7 linked regions of the Homo sapiens genome follow. The protein of the gene in region 1 purifies or fractionates together with the protein of each later gene. This does not show direct contact. Each region holds a gene or a part of one and is shown in the gene's direction. Other genes may lie near its edges. The genes, in order: SLC35F3, ENPP1, ANO10, TRPM7, NPEPPS, P4HTM and SNX19.

Region 1 (3,500 bases):
TTATTAATGTATTAATGCAGCAAAAGAGGTTGTCTTTTTGTTTTTTTTTTCTTTGTTTTTTGAGAGGGAGTCTCACTCTGTCACCCAGGCTGGAGTGTAGAGTGCAGTGGCATGATCTTGGCTCACTGCAACCTCCACCTCCTGAGTTCAAGTGATTCTCCTGCCTCAGCCTCCTGCGTAGCTGGGATTACAGGCGTGCGCCACCACATCCTGCTAATTTTTGTATTTTTAGTAGAGATGAGGTTTCACTATGTTGGCCAGGCTGGTCTTGAACTCCTGACCTCAGGTTATCCACCCACCTTGGCCTCCCAAAGTGCTGGGATTATAGGCGTGAGCCACCACGCCCGGCCCAGAAGAGGTTTTAAGGCAGAACTTTTGCTGTTTGCCATTTCTACTCAATTGATAATAATAAAGAGGCTTATCTATTACCTGTAGGTATCACCTAGTTGCTTTATTTGTTGGTTGGTAATTGTACTCTATAAATGGGGAGAGATGATGGTTACAAAAAAAACAAAACAAAGACAAAAAAAAAAAATTCTCATGATCTCCAGAGTGAGTTATGGAAGCTCCAAGCTATTATGTCACCTTTCAGTCATCTTTCAAAGTGATTTATCTGTGTCCTAACTGAAGGAGTTGCCAGTGAAAGTTTCTGGATGTAAGTCATTTGCCCTTGTAGCAGAAGAAACCATTTGAATGACCCAATATTCATTTGTATCCTCTTCATTTTTAGATTTTGTTTGGGTTGTTAAGATAAATGAGGTAATTGTGAACAGTACAGAAATTACCTTTGCTCAGTATTCTCAACTCAGTCATTTGGATTCGCAAGTTTCGCTCTAGACAAGAGAATTTTGTAAAGGATTCTTTTTTTTTTTTTTTTTTTTTTTTTGACAGAGTCTTATTCTGTCACCCAGGCTGGAGTGCAATGGTGCAATCTCGGCTCACTGCAACTTCCACCTCCCGGGTTCAAGCGATTCTCCTGCTTCAGCCTTCTGAGTAGCTGGGACTAGCACCACCATGCCTGGCTAATTTTTTGTATTTTTAGTAAAGATGGGGTTTCACCATGTTGGCCAGGCTGGTCTCGAACTCCTGATCTCATGATCTGCCCACCTCGGCCTCCCAAAGTGCTGGAATTACAGTCGTGAGCCACCGTGCCTGGCTTAAAATTTGCCCAGCTTCCCCAAATAATAGTATTTTTTTTTAGAAGGAGTTTTGCTCTGTCGCCCAGGCTAGAGTGCAGTGGCACAATCTCAGCTCACTGCAACCTCTGCCTCACAGGTTCAAGCGATTCTCCTACCTCAGCTTCCTCCTGAGTAGCTGGGACTACAGGCACCCACCACCATGCCCGGCTAATTTTTGTATTTTTAGTAGAGACAGGGTTTCACCATGTTGGTCAGGCTGGTCTCGAACTCCTGATCTTGTGATCTGCCCTCCTCGGCCTCCCAAAGTAATGGGATTACAGGCATGAGCCACCGCACCCAGCCTAGGATTCTTTTTTAAAAATCCCAAAGGCTCCTGGGTCTGAAAGGGATGGCTTTTGTGAAACATTCAACTGAGAATTAAACTGTAAACAAGGAAGTAAGAAGGGCCCAGTTCCTCTTCTCAGTGGCAAAAGTCCTCCAAGCTCCACATTCCATGTTTTTGAACCAAACCACTTGGCAGTATTCCTGGGAATTCTTCAAATTATCATCTGTTGAGTGGATCCAGGGCCCAGAAAGCACCTGGGCCACAGGAGGGACTCAATAAATATTTGTTGAATGAATGGATGGCTGCTGCACGAAATACTGACCTCTGGGACAGGGAGCTTTGAATATGCCTCTGTAGTGATTTGTATCATTTACCTCTTTATGCTGACTTCCTGTTATGTGGAATTGCTCTACTCTTTCCTAGTTCTTCCATCACAAGTGCTTCCTGAACCACAGACTGGACCAGAATTCTTGGTGATAAGCTTTGGTTTGGCCCAGGGTTTCTTGATCTCAGCACTATTAACCCTTTGTGCTGTATAAGTATTTGTTGTAGGGAGCTGTCATGTACATTGTAGGATGTTTAGCAGTATCTCTGACCTCTGCCTATTAGATGTCAGTAGCTTACCACCCTGCCCCCTAAGTTGTAGCAACTCAGTATCCCATGGGGGGCAGCCTTTAGTTGAGACCCACTCATTTAGGGTAACCCCCAAATTTATGCTGCAATAGAACTCTCTTCTGTTGCCCAGTAATGCTAAACAAGCAGGCCTACCTTACAAATTCCTGACCCTCTCCTTCCTCACCTTTCTTCCTGGACCACTTTTTAGGTTTTCAGGATGGCCAGATCGAGTAATCATCACCACTGGCAGTGCAAGTGTCTTCTGAAGATTTGAAAGAGCCTGTTCCTTCTGCAGCTGGCATGATTCCACAACCAATCATCATAAATTGACACCCTGTAGGAAGTGCTTTAGAATTCAGGAGACTCTGAACAGTTTCTTTTAATAACTTCCTTTTCTTTCCTACCTTTTGCCCCAGTAGAAGAGAAATGACTGATTAGAATATCTTCTGCTTCCTTTTCCTTTCTCATTTCTCTGGGATGGACACCAATTAGGGAGGAGATGGCTAGAGAAGGGATGAGGAGAATCAAAGACCAGGAAAAATCTGTATAGTAGACAGCCAGCCCCAGGCATCTGATAGGGTGGGACAGCTGGTGGCATTTCCATACAGGAATGATTGAAGGAACATATCTTGGAGTTTCCAGATAGAGGCTCTGCTGCAGGATGAAGGAACATCTGCGAATACTCCTTTATTTTCATTTATTCATTTAAAAAACCTTTTTTCAGCAGTCAGTGTATGTCAGAATAGAGAGAGAAGTGCTGGAAGAGGTGGCTCACTGTCCAGGTGTGCCTTCGTCTAGAAATACAGGTCAACACAAACCTGCATTAGAACACAGACATTCTAAGGGTGGGCAGGATGTTTCCCTTTCCGAAAGGTTTCCCTAAAGGATGTTTTCAAATATTGAACTCTTAAATCCTTTTCTGGGTAAAAAGTCCCCAAAACATTTTACGAATAGCTTTTTTGAAGGGGGTCATGCTTATTGCTTAACATGAAGTGCAATTATCATTTGAGTAGGTTTATACACTTTGTTGAACGTCAACTATTATTCACTACAGGTTCTGGTATGTTGAGATTTAAATGCTTTTTTCCAGAATGTGAATGGAATGAGTTTTAAGTCATTTGTAGAATGGAGAGAGGGTCAGTCTTAAAAGACCAACTGTCTCTAGCCCACTCCAGCCCGCTATTGGCAACGTGAACCTGGGACAGGAACATGCAGGTTAATGAACAAATCCCAGCTTATCTGGGTGGAGGTTTTCTAGTTCAAGCTGAAAAAATGTAGGGCACTGAATAACACACCTGGTGACAAGGAAATTGCATGTTTCAGGATTCTCCAGGTTTAAAAGTTGTAAAGGGTTTGTATGAGGTGAGGGGGAAGGGCTCATGGAAAGGCTGTCTTCCTAGCGTCCCTGTTAGTTCACCCTG
Region 2 (3,500 bases), on another chromosome or scaffold:
AAAACCACTTCTGTCTTGATGCTAGTGGTTTTTCTTCTGTCTACTATATTGCTTATAGTTAATTTGTCCATGAAATAAAAGATAGAGGTGACTTCTTAATGCTTTTCAAAGCCAGGTGGTTTTATTTACCGTTGTGTTGGTTTAACAAAATAGTTACATACTTTTTAATCAATGAAAATAATGTTATGATTATCAATTATGTTTTATGAAAGGACTTTACATTTTTAATTCATATATGTCAACATTAGGAATCCCTCAGAAAGGAAATATTGTGGAAGTGGATTTCATGGCTCTGACAATGTATTTTCAAATATGCAAGTGAGTAAACCTATTATACTTAATTGGATTAAATCTAAAGAAAAAATGATATGCAAAGTTTTAGACTTGAAAACATACTGTGATTATATGTCTTGAATGAGAATTAATGGAACATACTTTCATAAAGCTATTTTTCTTTGAACATTAAAGAATTTTGTTAAAGTTTTATATTCATTGGCTATTACTAAAAAGTCAAAAAACAACAGATGTAGTAAGGATGTGGAGAAAAGGGAACACTTATACACTGTCAAAGGGAATGTAAATTAGTACAACCTCTATGGATCACTGTATAGAGATTTCTCAAAGAAATAAAAATGAAACTACCCCTAATCTAGCAATCCCACTACTGGGTATCTACCCAAAGGAAAAAAAATAATCAGTTTATCAAAGACACCTGCACTCGTATGTTTATCGCAGCACTATTCACAGAAGTAGTCATGGAATCAACCTAAATATTTATAAATGGATGATTGGATTAAAAATGTGTGAGATATATATATATATACACACACACACACACATACCATGAAATACTACTCAGCCATAAAAAGGAATGAAATCATGTCCTTTGCAGCAACATGGATGGAATTGGGGGCCATTATCCTTAGTGAAATAACTCAAACAAAAAGCTAAAAATCACATGTTCACTTGTAAGTGGTAGCTAAACAGTAGGCAAACACGGACATACAGAGTGGAATAATAAACATTGGAGACTCCCCAAAGGTGGGAGGGCAGGAGGAGTGTGAGGGATGAAATACCACTTATTGGGTACAATGTACACTATTCTGGTGATGGGTAACACTAAAAGCTCAGACTTCACCACTGTGCAATATATCCATGTAACATAACTGTACTCATACCCCTAAATTCATAAAGTTAAAAAATTAATAAAATTTTATATTCATGTTTCATAAACATATGACATATCTCCTATTATATTTCTAATAATTATTTTTCAAATTTTTGTGCTCTGTTGAGAGTATTGCTTTACAGTTGAAGAAAACCAGTGCTATAATAGATAAGAAAGTATCAGACTTATGTTCTGAGAAGGATAATATCTTACATTTACCCAGCACTTTAACATTTTCAAAATAAACTTACAATAATTATTTAATTTGATCCCTGCATCACTGTGTAAGGTGGGCAGGATGAGGTTTATATTGCATGTCATAGATGAAAAAAAAATGTTATCATTCATTCTGTTCTGATTGTCAAACCAAGAATTGTAGTAAAACTAAGAGACCTATCCTAGATGTCCTTAGATTATGTGTGTGATAGGGTTAAAACTATATTTCCCACAAAGTCCACTGAGCGTGGTAGTTTTCCTCTTATCTTATCATAACCAGTTTGTATATGTACAATGTGGATAACAGAATTTTTGGGACCAACTTGTAGACAGCTGAAATGCACTGATAAACTTCCTTTTCTGGCCATCTAGGCCCTCTTTGTTGGCTATGGACCTGGATTCAAGCATGGCATTGAGGCTGACACCTTTGAAAACATTGAAGTCTATAACTTAATGTGTGGTAAGTGTGAACAGGTGCCTTTTTTCCCTTCTGAAAATAGACCTGAAATAGGATTATCAAAAGCAGGTCACATTGTAGGCAACTTTGTGGAGATGATGGTGAGGCAAGACAGATTTTTACCTTCTTCCTGACTCTCAGACTCACTGAAGAAATGTGGGGAACATGTCATCTTATTACTTATCTGTTTGTTCCACTAGGCTGCTTGCTGGTTAAAGTACACCACTCACAGCAGGGTGGTCTGCACACCCCCACTGCCCAGCACTTTGCTAGGCCCTCGGCTTAGTGATTTGATTCTTGACTCAGAGCAGTGATAGAAGCCAGAAAAAGGAGATTGAGGGCAGTGAAAGGTGGACAAAACTTTTGGAACTTCTGGTAGCCATAATGGTTGAATATAGGTCAGTGTCAAGGTTGCAGAAATGAAGGAGGACCCATTAGGGAGATTCTTGGTTTACTTTGTACCTTCTGAAGTAGTCCTTTTGTGTTGAAGCATTGTGTGTTTTAAATATTAGTTTCTTATTCTGATAATGGTCCTAGGCATCTGCAAAACCTTAAATATGTCTTAAGTATAATTCTTTTAGTGGGAGTCTATATAGTTTAAATGAGTTAATGTATCCTAAAATACTTAAAACAGCAGCTGGCATATAGTAAGTGCTTACTACATAAGTATTTGCTGTTATTACATTTAAGAGCATGAGTCTTAGACTCAGACAAAGCTGGTTTTGAATTCTAGATCATTTAGTTAGTAACTTTGAGACTTGGGTAAAACACTTTGATTACTCATCTACCAAATATTGATGATAACTTATAAAATTGTTTTGGGGAATAAATAAGAAAATATGTTAGTACCATGATTGGCAAAAATATGCATTCAACAGGTTGTGACTGTAGTTATTGTATGCTTTAAATATCAGAAATTTTGTAGTGAAATACAGCATACATATCAGTATTTCTATTAAAAATAACCTAGTCTTAAATACTCTAAAACCCAAGAGAGTTTTATACTTTTATTTTAGTTAAAGAGTAAATGACTCATGTATTTGGTTTTAAAAAAGTAAAGATCATGGCACAAGTCTACTATTTGTTTGATTTGAAACATCTAAGTAACTCTACCATCTTGAAATTATGCAGATTTACTGAATTTGACACCGGCTCCTAATAACGGAACTCATGGAAGTCTTAACCACCTTCTAAAGAATCCTGTTTATACGCCAAAGCATCCCAAAGAAGTGCACCCCCTGGTACAGTGCCCCTTCACAAGAAACCCCAGAGATAACCTTGGCTGCTCATGTAACCCTTCGGTAAGTATCGTCAAGAAGTTTGGTCCAGTATGTATGGTTTGATAGCACCCTCTGCATAGCATGTGCTGTAAAAATACTTAATAATCAAATTAGAATTTAGGAGTGGGGGTAGGTAAACATATGTTTTAATTCTAGGGGGCGCATGTAGATCTTTTGTGATATATCTTTTCTCTTTCTAGTTTTTGCATTTTCCACTCTATTTTTAATTCCTTGGAGCTGTGACTTGACTTGGGTGCAGGTGTGGTGAAGTCTAGTTAGTTGACTTGGGTACGGGTGTGGAGAAGTCTAGTTCAGTTCTTGAGCATCCTGAATTAGGGAATCTGTGCTGTTAACTCTAGCAGTGAGGTGATGAGCACAT
Region 3 (3,500 bases), on another chromosome or scaffold:
AGCTGCCAGAGGCAGCCTGGTGCCTAGGCACCGTCCCAGCCCACGCAGCCAGAGCCTGCAGTATGGCCTGGGAGAAATCTGTTTCACCCCTCCTGGCCCCAGCTCGCTTATTTGTGAAAGGTGACAGACAACAAATCAGAGACTTGCAAGCCTGGGGTGGCCAGTGGAAAAACTCGAAGGCTCGTTAAAAATTCAGAGAGTCTGGGGTCCACTGCAGGGCCTGCATTTAACCAGGTCTCAGGATTCTTAAGTGGCCATGAGACTGACTGTTCTTCAGGGTTCCTTCCTAATCATAAATTCTGTGATCCTGACATCACTTCTGCCAGTGCTCACCACTTCCCCATCGGGGAGGGTGTGGGAAGTGCTCTTGGGCCAGGGCTGTGGTTAGGGCTCAGCCTCCTCTTCACCAGGAGGACAGCCCTCCTGGAAAACAAATGGGATATTCCTGTTGTACGTCGCATGACCCCCATACTGAGGGTTGCAGACTCATGAGTGGTAGATAGCAATTGGTTTACCTAAGAGAAGCCATCTTAGGGCCAGCCAGCCGGTAATGAGTATCTGTGGCTCTGACTCCATTTGCAGCCAAGGGAGGTAGAGGCCTGCCCCATTTACACAGAAAAGGTGTGAATGTCAGCCACTGATTTCATGACAACTTAGCTTGTCTCAGGAAAGCGGGCTGTTGCAGCTCATTTCCTCCAAATCGCTTGGGTTTTTCTTTGGACTTTAGCTGCAGGTTTTAATTTCTGGTTCTGCCATTGGCTTAGGGTCTTCCAGCTGGGGATTGTGGGCACAGGCAACCCAGGGAGTCGAGCTGAGCCCCCCTCCATACCATGGCCCTGGGAGGGAGAGTGCCCTTGGAAGGAAACCACCTGGTCTGCCACTGCCCTGTGGAGGCCCTGGGAGCACAGCCTTCCTGTCCCCTCCTGTTCCCCTGGCTGCCAAGCTGGCCTTGAGACATCCCATGGCCGTGGCCCAACTTGGGGATCACAGAACACTCCAGTGAGGCTTGGTCATTCATGGCTTTAAAAGAAGCCTTGCTCCAGGACAGGTGAAGGAAAGAGCAGAAATGTGCAAATGGCTCCTGCCTGGCCTGAGGCAAGGGAGGACTGTAGGGTCCCTGGCCATTCTTTCTACCTTTGCCACCAGTAGTGCAGTTCAGTGCAGATGACCTTGTGACCTCGTGGACATCCTCAGGCTCTTAGGTGCTGCCCTGAGCAAGGCAGGCACTGCAGGTGGGAGGAACCCAGCCAAGTGGGTTCCGAGTTCCTTCCCTGAACTTGGGTGAAGCCCCCAACCCTGGGCCTGAGAGAAGGGGCTGTGGCCCTGAAGAAGCCCCTCATGGGCACATCAGTTATAAGGACAAGTGGGGGGCACCCCAGAAGCAGCCCCAGGAAGTGAGACAAAAGTCACATTGGGTTTGGTCATTTGGAGGAGAAGGCCCATCCACCCTGGCTACTGTGGAGCAGGGGGCCCCTCCCAGAGAGCTGCTGGATGCTTCTGTGCCTGACCTCACGGGGCTTCCAGCCACCATGCCTTGAAAGGAGCCTCAGATGCTCCCATTTTGATTTTCTTCCCCATGTGGAATGCCAGGGAAATGTGGCTGCAAGATTCCGTGACAAGCTGGGGAATGTTCTGTCTTCATTATTGTTTTAGTTTAGTTAAATTTACCGCACACAGTGGCTCATGCCCGTAGTCCCAGCTACTTGGGAAATTGAGGCAGGAGGATCCCTTGAGCCCAGGAGTTCGAGGTTGCAGTGTGATCACGCCTCTGCACTCCAGCCTGGGCAACAAAGTGAGACCCTGGCTCTTGAAAAAAAAAAAAAAAGACATTTTAAAAGTCTTACAAGTATTAAATGATAACAGCTAGAAGAGTCTGCAGTGAACCTGGGCTGAAATATTACAGTTTTTATTTATGGTGATATTTTATATCTGTAGTTAACAGCATGGGCTTGTGGGAAGACCTGAAATGTTAGTAATGGAAGAGGTAGCAGATGCAAAAAACTCTGGGGAGACTTTTACAGTGCCTAGCAGTTCAGCCTTTCTAGGTTTGTGAACTATTAAACCATCTCTATCCCCCTGGCAGGATGAAGGTTATAGAAATCTTGCAGTGGTGGGTCATTTGGACAGGGCATGTCCCTGGGCCAGTGTTAACTTGTGTGTCTACCCCCTACTCCAGGCCTACTGAAATGCTGTGGCCCCTGCAGAAAGAACCCTCTTACCCCCACCGCAGGTAAACTGGTCACCTTGACTCTCCGTAGCCCCCTTTCTCATCAAAAGCCATCTCCTAAGCCCTGCTTAGACCTGGATAAGAAAGGGCCAGCCAGTCCCCTCCCCAAGCCAAATGCAGAGGGCTCAGCTTCCAGGAGCCATCATGAGCCGCCCTGTGGGAGACAGGCCAGGCTCAGAAAACATGAGAATGGTCAGGAGTTGAGAGCACCTTCCTGAGGTGCTGCAGATCTAAAGGATCCTTAGGAGGGTAAATTAAAGCAGCAGACAAGGACTTTTGATTGACAGTCTGTGAAAGGGGCTTCTCCCACTGAAAGCCACAGGGAGCATGGTATTGCTTCCAGCCCTGGGTGGCACTTGGGGCTCTCAAGATGAGTAGCCAGGTACTGGGGGTACCAGCCATGTTTGCGCTCAGAGTTTTGTTTTTCCATAGGTGAATCACTGTTATCAAAAATCTGTTTGAAGCCAACTTCCACAGTATTATAGTTATTCATTTATTCAACGAATAGGGCAGAGCTGTAGTGGTGTTTTCTAGCCATAAAACCGAAGTGACTGGGAGCTTCAGGGCTGGGGTAGGGGAAGGTAGGAGCAGCAGAACTGTCCCCTACGCCGCTGCCTGACTTGTGGGAACAGGCTCTCCCTTCTGACACCTCCCTGGAAGTCTCCCATCCTGCCCTCGAGGAGGGCACCTCTATCTTGACGTCACCCTCACAGAGACTTCATGGGTTGTTCCCAGTGAGGATGGGGGCGGAGGGGTGAGTGTAAGTCCTGTGGCTGTACTAGGGACAAAAGGCTGGTGAGAAACATCTGATGATTTGGGGCATCTGTTCTGTGCCAGGGACTTCATGGACAACAATACTTGCAGCCACCCTGCAAAATAGGCACTATTGCTCTCACTGCAGATTTGGAAACTCCGGCTCAGTGAGGTCAAACTGCCAGGGTCGCTCAAAGCACAGGGGCAAAGCAAGCACTTGGTCCCAAGCCTGTGCCCCGTCCTCTCTCAGGCCCTGTCCGCCTATTCCCCTCATCCTGGCCATCCAGGGAGGAGGAGACGCCAGCTGCTTCTCATTTCAGTGTCCTTAAAATCCCTGCTGGTCTGGGCTCACACAGTGCGACATTGCATTTCCACCACACCAACTGTCTCCCATCTCCTCAGAGTCAGACCCAGGGACTTGCAGGAAGCTGCAGGCAGCATCAGAGTCACCACTTCCCTGGGGTCAAAGCCGCTGGCCAGGCTTCCACAGAGAGCAGAGGCCTCGGCCACTACTTAGGCT
Region 4 (3,500 bases), on another chromosome or scaffold:
GAGTCATGAATCTTTTGGCAATAGGGCAGATAAAAAGGAAAAAATGAGGCATAACCATTTCATTAAGACAGCACAGCCCTACCGACCAAAGGTAAATTTATTTAAATATTATTCTTTCTGGGTTTTTATTTTCTTCTTTCTAAATTACTTAGTATTATTAAACAAAAAAAACTAATTGATTTAGTAAGAATTACCTTTCGTTTTTGGATATGTCCTAGAATTGTCATTTTCTCACACACAGAGATATTAATTATAAGTTAATGATTCTGTTCCTTTTTTTTTTTTTTTTTTTTTTTGAGACAGGAGTCTTGCTCTGTCACCAGGCTGGAGTGTAGTGGCACAATTTTGGCTCACTGCAACCTCCACCTCCCAGGTTCGAGTGATTCTCCTGCCTCAGCCTCCCGAGTAGCTGAGACTACAGGCACCCAGCACTACACTGGCTAATTTTTTGTATTTTTAGTAGAGACTGGGTTTCACCATGTTGGCCAGTATGGTCTCGATCTCTTGACCTCGTGATCCATCCTCCTCAGCCTCCCAAACTGCTGGGATTACAGGCGTGGGCCACCGCGCCCAGCGTACATTTTCATATTTAGGTATGATAATAACCAAATTAAAATGTTTTAATAAATGTTTACCTGACTCCTTTCATTCCAGTTTTACTTGATTAAGAACATGTATAACAAAAATGTTATCTAACCCTTTATTAAAATTATGTTCTATTAGAATATTAGTTGAAATATTTAGGCCCTTAAATTTTGGAAAATGTTTATTGCAAAGGCATTTTTGTTGAAACAGCATTTTCATAAAATGAATTATGAGCTATAATAAAAATCAAGTTTATAAAATTTATGCTATTGTGCAGTTTTATGGAGCTGAATAATGTAAAGATATTTTACTAAAATTTTCACTGACATAAATTTCATATGGCCTTATTATAATGAGCTTTATAACTTTATTTTCCCTGGAAGATTGATACAGTTATGGAAGAAGGAAAGAAGAAAAGAACCAAAGATGAAATTGTAGACATTGATGATCCAGAAACCAAGCGCTTTCCTTATCCACTTAATGAACTTTTAATTTGGGCTTGCCTTATGAAGAGGCAGGTCATGGCCCGTTTTTTATGGCAACATGGTGAAGAATCAATGGCTAAAGCATTAGTTGCCTGTAAGATCTATCGTTCAATGGCATATGAAGCAAAGCAGAGTGACCTGGTAGATGATACTTCAGAAGAACTAAAACAGTATTCCAAGTAAGTGGTATTTTATCATTTGAAAACATTTTAAAAATTCAAAGTAGGTATTGTTTGAGTGGCTGTTACAGTGCCACGTACTTAATGGTGATGTATTTATATGTATAATCTTATTGGTACAATTGACAGAAAATTATATAAGTATATATTTTTTTAATTAAAAGAAACTTTCTGCCTCTATGAAAAAGAGGTTATTATATTTGCAACTCAAGAATTAAATATCTCAGCAAGAAAGAAGAAATGCAGCCTGGGCAACATAGGCAGACCCCGTCTCTACATGAAATTTAAAAATTAACTGGGTGTGGTGGTACTTGTCTGTGGTCCCAGCTACTCAGGAGGCTGAGGTGGAAGGATCACTTGAGCCTGGGAGGTTAAGGCTGCAGTGAGCTGTGATCATGCCATTGCACTCCAGCCTAGGTGACAGCAATAGACCCTGTCTCGAAACAAAGAAGAAATGCCAGAATTCATTTTAATTTTTGCAAATAGTAGCAATTGGATTAGAAAGTTCCATTTGAATTGGTAAGGAAAGGGTGGAAGTGAAGTTGGAGCTGTGTTATAAGAAAATAGACTGAATTCAACTGGGAAGGCACTTCAGAAGCTAGAACTACATACACAGAGTAACGACATAGTTCATAAAAGTTTACAATTTACTTAGAGGGGCAGTGTTGGAATATTAAACTGGAAAAGTAGTTTGTAGAAGTTTTCTAATATATACTAAGACCTCCGGCTCCCCAAGTGGGGTATTTAGAGGGCAGTGATAATTGTTACTGAAAATAACTCTTTAACAGGGATCCTATGGTTACTTAGTGGGACTTCAAGATTCAGATGTTTTTCATAATTAGGTTAGTCCCTAGTCACATTGTTTTTCCTCTCTACCAGGTACCAACTGTTTTCTGTGTTTGAAATACTACATAAACTTTTTTGAACAGAGCATTGTAGCATTGTGAGTTTTGATTCCCTTTGAGATTATAGTTTGATTTCTAGGACCGGGAGAATGTGCTCTGGATTCACCTTCTCAATCTTGTACATAATGCGACATATTTTAATATTTTGTGATTTCCACATAGATGTAGATGTCTGAAAACAGAGTTATGGTTTTAATGCCTCATAATTCTGTAAGTGTGTGTGAGAATATTAAAAAGTAGGAAGTATTAATGTATATAAGAATAGTGGTTTAAAATTGCAGTTTGTTAATCTGAGTATATTTTGGCTTTTATCTTTTTATAGTGATTTTGGTCAGTTGGCCGTTGAATTATTAGAACAGTCCTTCAGACAAGATGAAACCATGGCTATGAAATTGCTCACTTATGAACTGAAGAACTGGAGTAATTCAACCTGCCTTAAGTTAGCAGTTTCTTCAAGACTTAGACCTTTTGTAGCTCACACCTGTACACAAATGTTGTTATCTGATATGTGGATGGGAAGGCTGAATATGAGGAAAAATTCCTGGTACAAGGTATACTTTAGAAATAATTTGATATAAAGCATGTGATTAGATAAAAAGAACAGAAGAATTAGTCTAAATGTGTAGTAAAATGCCTTGATGTGTGAGTGTAATGGTGGGGGGTAAAGAGGGAGCAAGATGGATGATTGGCATTTCATCCCAAGTGGTATAATGGGCTTCTTTTTTCCTCTACTTAACTTTTGAATCCTTTTCAGGTGTCTATAATGATTATGGCCTCTCTTTGAGCTAGAAGGGGAACAAATGGCAAATATTGGAGATTATGGCCCCTAGCAGCCTTGAAAAAAGTTACTACTTTATGAAAAGATTATTCCCAAATTCTGAAATTCAAGACCTATCTACTAATTTAATAATCTGTTACTTTTAAGTTACTTAAAGTATATTGGATGAGTATATTGATATACCCATTATAGATAAGTATATCCATGTGGCCTGTTTTTATGATTAAAAATTTGGGTAAAATGGCATGTACCTTTGGTTTTGTCATGGTGATAGATACTGCTTTGAACTTTGCTTTTTGTTATCTTATATCTTTTAAAATAAGGTGCAGAAATGTAGGAGTCAGAAATCAGGCAAATAGTTTAACCATAGGCCACTGAATAACCAACAGAAAACCTGTTACACAATTACAATTTCTTCATGCTTTGGGATTTTGCAAGTAATAAGTAAAATTTTAGAAATAAACCTTTTTGTTTATAGAGGCACAAGCTGAGTAATCACATTATGACATGGAACACTTGCAAAGAGATTTAGGATAAAATTAAGGACATAGCACCTTTATAAGGCTTG
Region 5 (3,500 bases), on another chromosome or scaffold:
AAAGTGCTGGGATTACAGGCATGAGCCACCATGCCCAGCCAAGACCTCTTTTTCTTGATAGCTTTATTTTTGGAGGATTTTCTCTTTGTCAAATTCCTCGTTAAATACATTTATAAGATTATCTACTTCTTTTAATTTAGAGAGGTAAATTGACAAGTTTAATAGATTTATAGTAACTAAAAGCAAAAGGTCTTGGGCTGGATATGGTGGCTTACACCTGTCATCCCAGCACTTTGGGAAGTCAAGGTAGGCAGATCGCTTGAGGTCAGGAGTTGAAGACCAGCCTGGCCAACATGGTGAAAACCTGTCCTTACTAAAAATACAAAAATTATCTGAGTGTGGTTGCACACACCTGTAGTCCCAGCTAGTTGGGAGGCCGAGGTGGGAGGATCACTTGAACCCAGGAAGCGGAGTTTGTAGTGAGCTGAGATCACACCACTGCACTCCAGCCTGGGTGACAGAGCCAGACCCTATCTCAGAAAAAAAAAAAAGAAAAAGGTCTTGACTTATTAAATGTCATAAGAAAGCCAGGTACAGTGACTCTTGCTTGTAATCTCAGTGCTTTGGGAGGCTAAGGCAGGAGGATTGCTTGAGGCCAGGAGTTTGACACCAGTCTGGGCAACATAGTGAGACCTCATTTCTACAAAAGATTTAAAACTTAAAAGTTAGCCAGGTATGGTGGCACGTGTCTGTAATCCTAACTACTTGGGAGGCTAATGTGGGAGGATCTCTCGAACTTAGGAGTTTGAGGCTACAGGGAGCCGTGATTGTGCCACTGTATTCCAGCCTGGGTGACAGAACAAGACCCCATCTCTTAAAAAAAAAAAAATAGGCCAGGCATGGTGGCTCATGCCTGTAATCCCAGCACTTCAGGAGGCTGAGGCAGGTGGATCATTTGAGGCCAGGAGTTCGAGACCAGCCTGGCCAACATGGTGAAACCCCATCTCTACTAAAAATACAAAAATTAGCCAGATATGGTGGCAGGCACCTGTAACCCCAGCTACTTGGGAGGCTGAGGCAGGAGAATTGCTTGAACCTGGGAGGTGGAGGCTGCAGTGAGTTGAGATCGCGCCACTCCACTCCAGCCTGGGTGACAGAGCAAGACTCCATCTCGGGGGAAAAAAAAAAAAAAGGTTGCAACAGAGCAAGACCCTGTCTCTTATGTTTTTAAAAAGTTAAAAAAATTCAAAAGATGTAGCTGCGTAATGAAGTATATTTAGGTCTCTGGCTGTTTGTATTCTTGGAATGTATTCTCTTCACCAGTGTTATTGATCTCATTCATGAACAGGGTAAGCATTCCCCACTTGAAGTGTGTTGTCTAGGACTGTCTTGTGTGGGGAACTTGGAAAAACCTGCTGCACCTGAAAATAACTCTTTTATGTATTTATTGGGGGAGAGCATCCCATAAATAGAATGTCATTCTCTTCTCACATATTCTTAGAAGAGGAGGCTAATATATTAAACGGAAATATTCATTCACACTTTAGTATGAGTGAATTTATCAGTGTGTTCTTGAATAAGTCTTCCTTGGAAGGAAGAATAGAGAGAGCTTGAGGAAACAGAGCCTGAATAGGAAAAAGAGGGAGAACACCAAAGGAAATTAGGGACTCCAAAGGTAAAGTTGAAATTTCTTCACAAATAAGCTTAGAGCCAACTTTGGTAGAGAATGCCCTCGATCTAGAAGTTTGTATCCTTTGAAATGGGAGATTCTACAATTATATTATATTTATTTATTTTTGAGAAGGAGTCTCGCTGTGTCGCCCAGGCTGGAGTGCAGTGGTGTGATCCCAGCTCACTGCAAGCTCCGCCTCCCTAGTTCACGACATTCTCCTGCCTCAGCCTCCCAAGTAGCTGGGATTACAGGCACCCCCCACCATGCCTGGCTAATGTTTTGTATTTTTAGTAGAGATGGGGTTTCACCATGTTAGCCAGGATGGTCTTGATCTCCTGACCTTGTGATTCGCCTGCCTAAGCCTCCCAAAGTGCTGGTATTACAGGCGTGAGCCACCGCGCCTAGCCCCTATTTTATTTTTATTAATAGTCATTTTCTCCTAAACTTATGTCAGTTGAAAAGTATGAAGCCCTTAACTTAAATCATCCCAATGCCTGGCTTATAATAAGTATTTGAGAAAAGTCCATTCCTCTTTTCTTTCACAGGTCCTTGGTAGTTTTAACACTTCAGCCTCCAGCTTCTTAGTATGAGTGTTTTATCAGACCACTTTCCTTCTTAAAGACAGCATAAAAGCACTGGATGAATTGGGGTAGAGAAATAAGCCATGCTAGAATAGAAAGGGGTAAAGAGATGCAATAAAGCCTACAGTTTTTGGCTGGTATTTGCTCTATGGTATTAATGTAAACCTATTTAAATTTTTCTTTTTTTTATTTCTTAAAGAATGTAATTGACCGGAAACCATACCCTGATGATGAAAATTTAGTGGAAGTGAAGTTTGCCCGCACACCTGTTATGTCTACATATCTGGTGGCATTTGTTGTGGGTGAATATGACTTTGTAGAAACAAGGTCAAAAGATGGTGTGTGTGTCCGTGTTTACACTCCTGTTGGCAAAGCAGAGCAAGGAAAATTTGCGTTAGAGGTAAATGTACTTGAAGAGGATTGTTCCAACAGTCCATAACTCCAGGTTGGGGAATTTACATTTCTGGTCAATTATTAGTACAGTTATTTATAATTTAATCTGAAAGTTGTGCTACTTGGTTTATTTTTAGTAGAATTTAGGAAATGCCAACCTTGGTGTTTCATTATTTTACAAAATAATAATTAAGAGAATATAAGAGTGGAATTTCTCTAGGGAATGGGTTGGAAAATATGTAGTTATATTTTTCATATCAAGTTATAAATGGATTAAAGTTTGGCCATTGTATTCAAAGTTTGGAGCTAAGGCAGTCTTCGGAGGGTAGGGCTCCTCGGGATTCATTTCTAGTAATTTAAGATACATTGGCTTGCAACAGGATTCCTTTGTGGGTTTCAATATGAATTATAATAACATATTTATTAGATGGTTATTTTGTTTATACTTTTATAGGTTGCTGCTAAAACCTTGCCTTTTTATAAGGACTACTTCAATGTTCCTTATCCTCTACCTAAAATTGATCTCATTGCTATTGCAGACTTTGCAGCTGGTAAAGTAAATTTCATTTTATTGCTGAATTGTAATAACTTTTTAAAATTTTGTGACTTTTGATGCAAGAGTATATATATATATATATATATCAATAAATGTTTATATTTATTTTGTGAAGGTGCCATGGAGAACTGGGGCCTTGTTACTTATAGGTATGTTAATGATGTGTTACCCTGCCTTATCTTTTCAAATCACTGATTTCAAAAGGGCTTCCCTCCTAATCACAGTTGAGTAGCTTCTGCTTTACGATATGGTGTAAATTTTTCTACCTTCCCCCACTTCCGTGCACATTTCAAGAATGCAGATGGACACCCCTCCCTTTGGTGCTACTGTCTGAGGGTGTAAGATTTTAAAGTGAGCA
Region 6 (3,500 bases), on another chromosome or scaffold:
AAAGCTACGGACCGGTAAAGGTTAATCAGGTATAATTAAGTCTGTCCGGGGTTCGACAAACAGCATCTTGTCCAAGGTGAGCATAGCCCAAGGCTATGTGCCTGCCCGGAGACTCAGCTTGGGGTTCCGAGGCATGTGGGCAGTAGTAGCAGGCCACTAGCCAGGCTGTCATCCTAGGCCTGGGAAGGACAGAAGGTGGTTTTCCCTACCCAGCATAGACAGCTGCCTGGGAGCCTGTCTGTCCTCTTGGCCAGACAGAGGACTACCTGCTCAAAAAGCAGTTCCTAGCTGTGTCCATGGAAAGTGTACTTCCACCCTGTTTGAGACTTGTGCCTCTCTGGATTCTGGTTTGTAAATCTCCTTGGGGGGCGGCAGAAAGAGGGTTGTATGTGTTTCCATGGAAGCACACACAATTTGCATGGCCACTGCAGAGGCCATGGCTACAAAGTCCCAGGCTCTCCCTGGCGGGGTTAGCCCCTATTCTTGGCACTGGTGAGGGTGCCAATGGCGCACAGCCAGTCGAAAATTTTGGTGGCCCTGGCTCCAGGCATAGGCCGTGGTTACCAACAGCCAGCAGGCCTCCATCTTCCCACTCAACACATAGGTCCCTGTGTGCCTTCCTCGAAAAAGATTGTACACACATGTGACATCCAGCTGCAGCCAGCGTTGCAGGGTGGGCTCCAGCTCTGCAGGGGGCAGTGGTCCTGTCTTCAGCACCTCTAGTCTGGAGTACAGGTTGCAGTCCCAGGGGCCAGAGGAAGTACTGTTGGTCCTGGAGAACCTGACCTTCACTGCTGAGTGGGAACAGAGGGGCCGGTGAGGAGATGGGCCTCTAGGAGTCCTCCCTAAACCCCCAAGAGTGTTTAGTCCATCAGTCCCCTCCACCTAGTAGACTAAACCCTTTTGTCTGATGCTCTGCCCTTAGAATCAGTCTGCCACCTTCCTTAGCAGAATTTTTGGTTTCATTTTGTTGTTTTAGCAATGTCCTATGCTTGTAAAGGAATTTTTTCTTTTTGTTCCAACCAGGCATAGCATTTGGATATTCCCTCTTACACTGCCTCAGCCCCGAGCCAGGAGCTGCAATGGAGGCACTTGGAAGGGGTGTGTAAAGCTACAGGCCCAGGACTCATCAAAGTCACTGGTGCAGAGAGTGTCCAGAACCTCCTTGGAGGAGCCTGCATCCTGCAACTCGCAGTCCCTGCAGCTGGCATGCAGCGCTGGGAAGAGGGGCAAGGCGAGGCACTGGCCAGTGTGGTTGGGGGTGGAGTGAGGAGGGGGTGGAGGGGGCTGATCCCTCCACTTTTCCCCCTTTTTTACCCTTTTTGAGACGGATGCCTGCTGTAGGTGACATTGAGTACAGTTTACCTGATCCCTGTATGATTTGAATGATTTGAAAGGGGTGGGGCCGAGCAAGGTGGAGACCAGCCATGTGCAGACTCACATGGGCGGTCCAGGCGGGAGCCGTTGTTGGCCACAGCAGTGATACAGAGATCATGGCCCAAGGGGAAGCGTCCACAATGCAGGATGGCTGGCCAGGGGTAGCTGTAGCAGGCCATGATGGGCTCGCAGCTGGCCTGCATGGCCTCGCACAGGCTGTAGGAGGGGTAGATGACCCTTTGGGGGAAAGGGTCGGGGGCTGCACCGCCACAGGCTGAGCACCCAGATCAGCTGGAACCTCTCCATGTTCCTACCCCTGTCTCGTGGCCTGGAACTCTCTGGTTGCTGGGCAACGACACTGGTCGCCTAGCAACAGCCCCGTAGCCTGGCTTTCCCACTTGCCCCACATCTCAGCCCTCAGCTCTGCCTCTTCACTCCCGCCCTCCCACTCAGGTGCCTTGCCAGCTTTCCAGTGCACCTCTCCCTCCGGCTCTGTGGACATCCATTGTCTGCAAGAGGTGGCCTGCACCTTGGGCCTTTACTCTCCATCTTAAAGTGAGGAAACAGGGCCCTCCCTCTTGTCCTGAAAGGCCTTCGGGGCACCGCAGCCAGGGCTGGGGTTGGCAAACAGTTCAAGGGCTTGATCCTGAGTTCTGCTGACATGGCCACCCAGAGGCTCTTGGGAGAAACCATTGTTCACAGGATAGGTTAGGCTGGGGAAGAGGAAACAGCCTTGGGATCTCTGGACTCTCTGGGAGAAAAGGCCACCAGAAGGGCCTCTGCTCCATCTCTTGCCAGGGTCTCTTTGGACAGACATAGCTTCCACGCCTCATTGGAGAGGAGGTTCCAGCCCGCCTGCCCCCAACCCCCAGCCTGAAGCGACTTGTCCACCTGCCCTATCTTGACATTCAAGAGCCCTTGACCACCATTGATGGTCTCCTGCCTAAGGGCACCTGGTTCCCTCTGTCTGGAACACTCTAACAAAACGATCCATTTTCCTCTCTGTGCCTGTCAGCGCCCAGCCCTGATAGGTGCTCAGGTGCTCAGCAAGGATTACTGAAGACCTGAGCCACCAGAGCAGGGCCCTGAGGGAGCCCTCCAGGGCCCTGCACCTGGAAGCCCCTGTCCTACCTGTCAAGGCATACAGGGGTAAATAGCAGAGGAAGAGGCGGGCATCGGGGTGGCACTCCCAGGCAAGCAGGAGCAGCCAGCTGACCAACTGCTGGATGGCCTCAGCTGCTGTGATGTGGTCCAGCAAGTTGGGCAGACGCATCTGTGTAGCCAATGTCGTGGCATAGGGCCATGGCTTGGGGAATGGGCATGCACCTCATGCAGCCCCAGGGAGCCCCTGACCCTGCTGTCATCCCACAGCATCACCAGTGTCACCAGCAGCCACAGCCCCTGCTCCATCACTGCCTTCTGTGCCTTGGCCTTAATGAACTGAGGTTGAGGGTTTTATAGGGCTGTTCCTGCACCCAGGGAGCCAACAGAGGAGATCCTGCAGGGGTTTGCACAGCTCCGAGGTGCCCGGACCCACCTGGTGAGGCCCCAACATGCTGACTGGGCTGTTTGTTTTTGATTAGCACACAGCAGGGGACTGTAGAGGCTGGAGGCACCTCCACTGGGCTTGCAGATTACTGGCACCTAATAAACTGAAGAAACCTGGGCCTGTGTTTTCTTTTCTTTTTCTGGCTTCCTTTTTCTTTCTTTTTAAATTTTGTGTGTTAAGCAATCAAGAGGTGACTCTGTTGATTTGCAATTTGATCTAATCCATTGTTCCACAGGGCTGTCTCCCCTTGGATCACACCCTTTCTGGGTTTGCTGGGGTCACGGGATCATGCAGGCCAAGAGTGGGGGCCTTTGTCCTATCCTCAGTGTTATCACATCAGGGTCACCTGCTCCTAGTAGCTGAATCTGGTCATGAGCATGGTTTCTGGAACACAGCAGGCTGGGTGGCCAGTGGCAAGGCACTGATTTCTCTGTGCTTGGGTTTCCTCTTAGATAGGAAGGTTGAATTAATGGGGCCTGGCCTCCTAGGGTAAGTATAAGGATTAAGGAGTTGATGTGTATGAAGTGCTTAGGACAGTGCCTTGGGCAGAGTCTGTGCTACCTAAGTATTTTCT
Region 7 (2,865 bases), on another chromosome or scaffold:
AGAATAGACCTTATTAAGGGAGGAAAAACACTTTTGGAGTTTACCTCCTTTACACATCCTGCTTGCATGGAATCCAAATTCAGTGAGCTGACGGCAGGCCAGTTCCTTGCCACTTTATGCAGTTGTGTTTAAAGTTTACCCTCTGTTATCTATAAATGCAAGTGGCTTTTTCAAGAATAGTGAGGGCAGCTTTCATTAAGGACTCATGCATCTCTAGGAGAATCACATGGGCTTAGTTGGCAGTAGAGCATTTTCTTGGGGACAGAATGTATTATAGATGGTTTAGGCAGGAGGTTAGACGAGAAACTTCCAAAAAAATCTAGGGATTTTTTATTCTGCCCAAACCAGCATGTTCCTTCCTGCTTTCATTTTTTTGTTCATGTCCTTCCTTCCACGTGGTAGATTACCTTCTCTTCTCCAGCTGGGCAAGTAGGCTACCTCTGCCCATAAGGACCAATTCAAGTTCCATTTTCAAGAAGCACTGTCTGATTGCACCAGCCAAAACTCTTCCCACTTTCTTTTCAGTTATTTACACTGCCTCTCTAGTCAATGTGCATGTATATGAAGTCCTCAGTAAGAGACTATAATTCTTCAAGGGCAACGAACATATCTTTTATCTTTTTTAGTCCTATTATGTCCTTATGCCCCCCCCCCAACTATATGTATATACCTAGTGCATGATAGGTACAAAATAAATATTAAAGTTTACTTAATTAAAGATTATGTTTATTTAAGAGGCAAAATTTGTGAATAAGTCTGGATCTTGATACTGTTACTTTCATTTTGTTGATTCCTTTCTCCCAACCTTCCACATCCCAGAGACAGGGTGCTGGTGACTTTTATGGAAAGGCTTGAAGGGTGAAGATATGTGGAGAAACCACCGTAAACCTCTTTGAGATTAACCACTTATTCCAGTGGAGGGCACTGGCTAGTCTGTACCAGACCTGCCCCAGACAGCTTTGTACATCTTGCGTGTGGGTGGGAACCCAAAAAGTTTCCTTTTCAGTGGATCTGTTTAGGTGAGGTAAAGAAATCCATTACTCAAATGTTTCATCAGAGGCTACCCCCTGTTCAGGTGTGCACCCTGCACCCATGTGGGTTTGCGGATGGCATATAACACTTGCAGCAGCAGAGCTCGTTGCCACACATCCAAGGGAAGTAAGTGTGCATATGTGGATGCGGCGGGAATACCTGCGGTCTTTCTGCTGAAGAGCAGGGTTATACACCTCCTTTTAGCAATCTGGAGAGGACTGAGGCAAGAGCTTGTATTGAAACACAAGCAAGCTCCACGTATGGTTTTGGACATGGAAGAAAGAGTACTGTTGGGGTGGAATGACCTAAGTTTTTAATAGGATTAGGATTTCTGTGGATTTTTCCCAAGTGATAGAAGTTTTCTTCATCTAGCAGGGAGCCTCACCCAATTGCTTCTCTATGTTCATTTCTGAAACTCCTTTGTTAAAACTAAATAGCAACAGAGAAGAAACTTTCTTCAAAAAACTCTTCATATCTGTCATTTCTCCTATTCTTATGGAACTTCACAATTGCTTTTTCTTTATTCCTTTTTTTTTTTCTATATCAGCTCATCAGTCTTTGTGGGTGACTTGGCTACCCCACTAATCTAATTGCCTTTTTGATAGTTAAATCAATATGGACATCAACTTAAGGCTATATGTGAACCTTAAATGCATGATATTCCCTATACTTGATTCCACAATTGATATTCTGTGAGGAAAGTTGGCCAGATATTCCCTTCTGTGAAGTCAGAATAACTACCGACCCTAAGAATAAACATTTTGACCAATTCTTTATATGTTGCAAACTATTCACACAACTAGAAAGTTTAGCCATTCACATCTCTTCCCCTGATTTTAAGTCCCAGATTCTGAGACTCAGAAAGTTTAGTGACTTGTTGAGCTTTCTGTGGAAAATCTGTTGTAAAAACAGTTCAGACATTGGAAAATATAAAATAGCCCCTAGAGATCCCAATAAAGCTTCCTCTCCCCAAATCCCTCTACAAGTTTATCCTCGAAAAACTTTCTGAAAACTGATGAGAAAATACTGAGTAATTAATGCTCAAATGGGAAAGATGACATGTAAAAGCAAAAACCTGTTAATGGCATCTGTTCATATAGTTCCATGTGCCTTTTTACTTAACTGCACTGATAGGCAATGTAATGAAGAAGTTTCCTTTTAAAACGTAAAATGTAATTAAACAGAGTTTATCTTAAATTGGCTGGACCCGCACAGCTTGACTGAGACATACACAGCTGTCTTCATTTTGAAGCACCTACACTAGTCAAGCTTCTTTCTAACCCGCCCTTAGGGTTTGCCTGTTGGTCTGTCTTCCCTACTGGGCTGTTAATCCCTTGGAGGCAGATTGTCTTGTTTCCCAGAGTTTTTCCAGCATATACCATGGCAGACAATTTTCACCTTATCTATTCTAACTCGTAAGCCTCAGCTAGTGCCTCCATCCTCGGGTGCATAGCCCAGTGACAGGCATGTAACAGACTTTGCCTACAAGCAGTTGCTGATCCATAAATGACGTTGGCAACCTTCTTGTGGCAGTGAGTAACATATTTCTTTCCTCCTGATAGGCTTGGAATCCTCATCCCCATCTGGCAATTTTCTTTCCATCTTTCCTACACTCACAATGGAGCCCACACGCCTCACAACCCCCTTGACTAAACCAGATGACAGCAAGAATGCCTAGTTCCAAGTGAGCAAGGGTGAAGCCTTAGGCCCTTGTCTCCTCCAGACCTCCTCTCTGCTCTAAGAGTATACTGGGCATGGGGTGTGGTCGGGGGGTTGGGGGCGGAGGAGTACTTAACCTCAAACTGAGAAAAAGGGTGTCCTGAGCAAGTTTCA

Evidence for each region.
Region 2: the proteins of SLC35F3 (region 1) and ENPP1 purify together in Homo sapiens (affinity purification with mass spectrometry; one large-scale study listed by BioGRID and IntAct). This does not show direct contact.
Region 3: the proteins of SLC35F3 (region 1) and ANO10 purify together in Homo sapiens (affinity purification with mass spectrometry; one large-scale study listed by BioGRID and IntAct). This does not show direct contact.
Region 4: the proteins of SLC35F3 (region 1) and TRPM7 purify together in Homo sapiens (affinity purification with mass spectrometry; one large-scale study listed by BioGRID and IntAct). This does not show direct contact.
Region 5: the proteins of SLC35F3 (region 1) and NPEPPS purify together in Homo sapiens (affinity purification with mass spectrometry; one large-scale study listed by BioGRID and IntAct). This does not show direct contact.
Region 6: the proteins of SLC35F3 (region 1) and P4HTM purify together in Homo sapiens (affinity purification with mass spectrometry; one large-scale study listed by BioGRID and IntAct). This does not show direct contact.
Region 7: the proteins of SLC35F3 (region 1) and SNX19 purify together in Homo sapiens (affinity purification with mass spectrometry; one large-scale study listed by BioGRID and IntAct). This does not show direct contact.

The regions. Positions count from the first base shown.
Region 1 is NC_000001.11:233,907,676-233,911,175, forward strand, and holds part of SLC35F3 (solute carrier family 35 member F3), read left to right. Parts: intron 1-3,500. UniProt on the Homo sapiens protein: Mediates thiamine transport.
Region 2 is NC_000006.12:131,874,020-131,877,519, forward strand, and holds part of ENPP1 (ectonucleotide pyrophosphatase/phosphodiesterase family member 1), read left to right. Parts: intron 1-248; coding exon 249-318; intron 319-1,756; coding exon 1,757-1,844; intron 1,845-2,972; coding exon 2,973-3,142; intron 3,143-3,500. UniProt on the Homo sapiens protein: Nucleotide pyrophosphatase that generates diphosphate (PPi) and functions in bone mineralization and soft tissue calcification by regulating pyrophosphate levels.
Region 3 is NC_000003.12:43,367,012-43,370,511, reverse strand, and holds part of ANO10 (anoctamin-10), read left to right. Parts: intron 1-3,500. UniProt on the Homo sapiens protein: Does not exhibit calcium-activated chloride channel (CaCC) activity. Can inhibit the activity of ANO1.
Region 4 is NC_000015.10:50,610,298-50,613,797, reverse strand, and holds part of TRPM7 (transient receptor potential cation channel subfamily M member 7), read left to right. Parts: coding exon 1-91; intron 92-968; coding exon 969-1,249; intron 1,250-2,476; coding exon 2,477-2,705; intron 2,706-3,500. UniProt on the Homo sapiens protein: Bifunctional protein that combines an ion channel with an intrinsic kinase domain, enabling it to modulate cellular functions either by conducting ions through the pore or by phosphorylating downstream proteins via its kinase domain.
Region 5 is NC_000017.11:47,583,108-47,586,607, forward strand, and holds part of NPEPPS (puromycin-sensitive aminopeptidase), read left to right. Parts: intron 1-2,392; coding exon 2,393-2,593; intron 2,594-3,040; coding exon 3,041-3,137; intron 3,138-3,257; coding exon 3,258-3,291; intron 3,292-3,500. UniProt on the Homo sapiens protein: Aminopeptidase with broad substrate specificity for several peptides. Involved in proteolytic events essential for cell growth and viability. May act as regulator of neuropeptide activity.
Region 6 is NC_000003.12:48,996,741-49,000,240, forward strand, and holds part of P4HTM (transmembrane prolyl 4-hydroxylase), read left to right. Parts: exon of another isoform or gene 1-1,932; intron 1,933-2,175; exon of another isoform or gene 2,176-3,043; intron 3,044-3,500. UniProt on the Homo sapiens protein: Catalyzes the post-translational formation of 4-hydroxyproline in hypoxia-inducible factor (HIF) alpha proteins. Hydroxylates HIF1A at 'Pro-402' and 'Pro-564'.
Region 7 is NC_000011.10:130,868,615-130,871,479, reverse strand, and holds part of SNX19 (sorting nexin-19), read left to right. Parts: 3' UTR 1-2,865. UniProt on the Homo sapiens protein: Plays a role in intracellular vesicle trafficking and exocytosis. May play a role in maintaining insulin-containing dense core vesicles in pancreatic beta-cells and in preventing their degradation. May play a role in insulin secretion.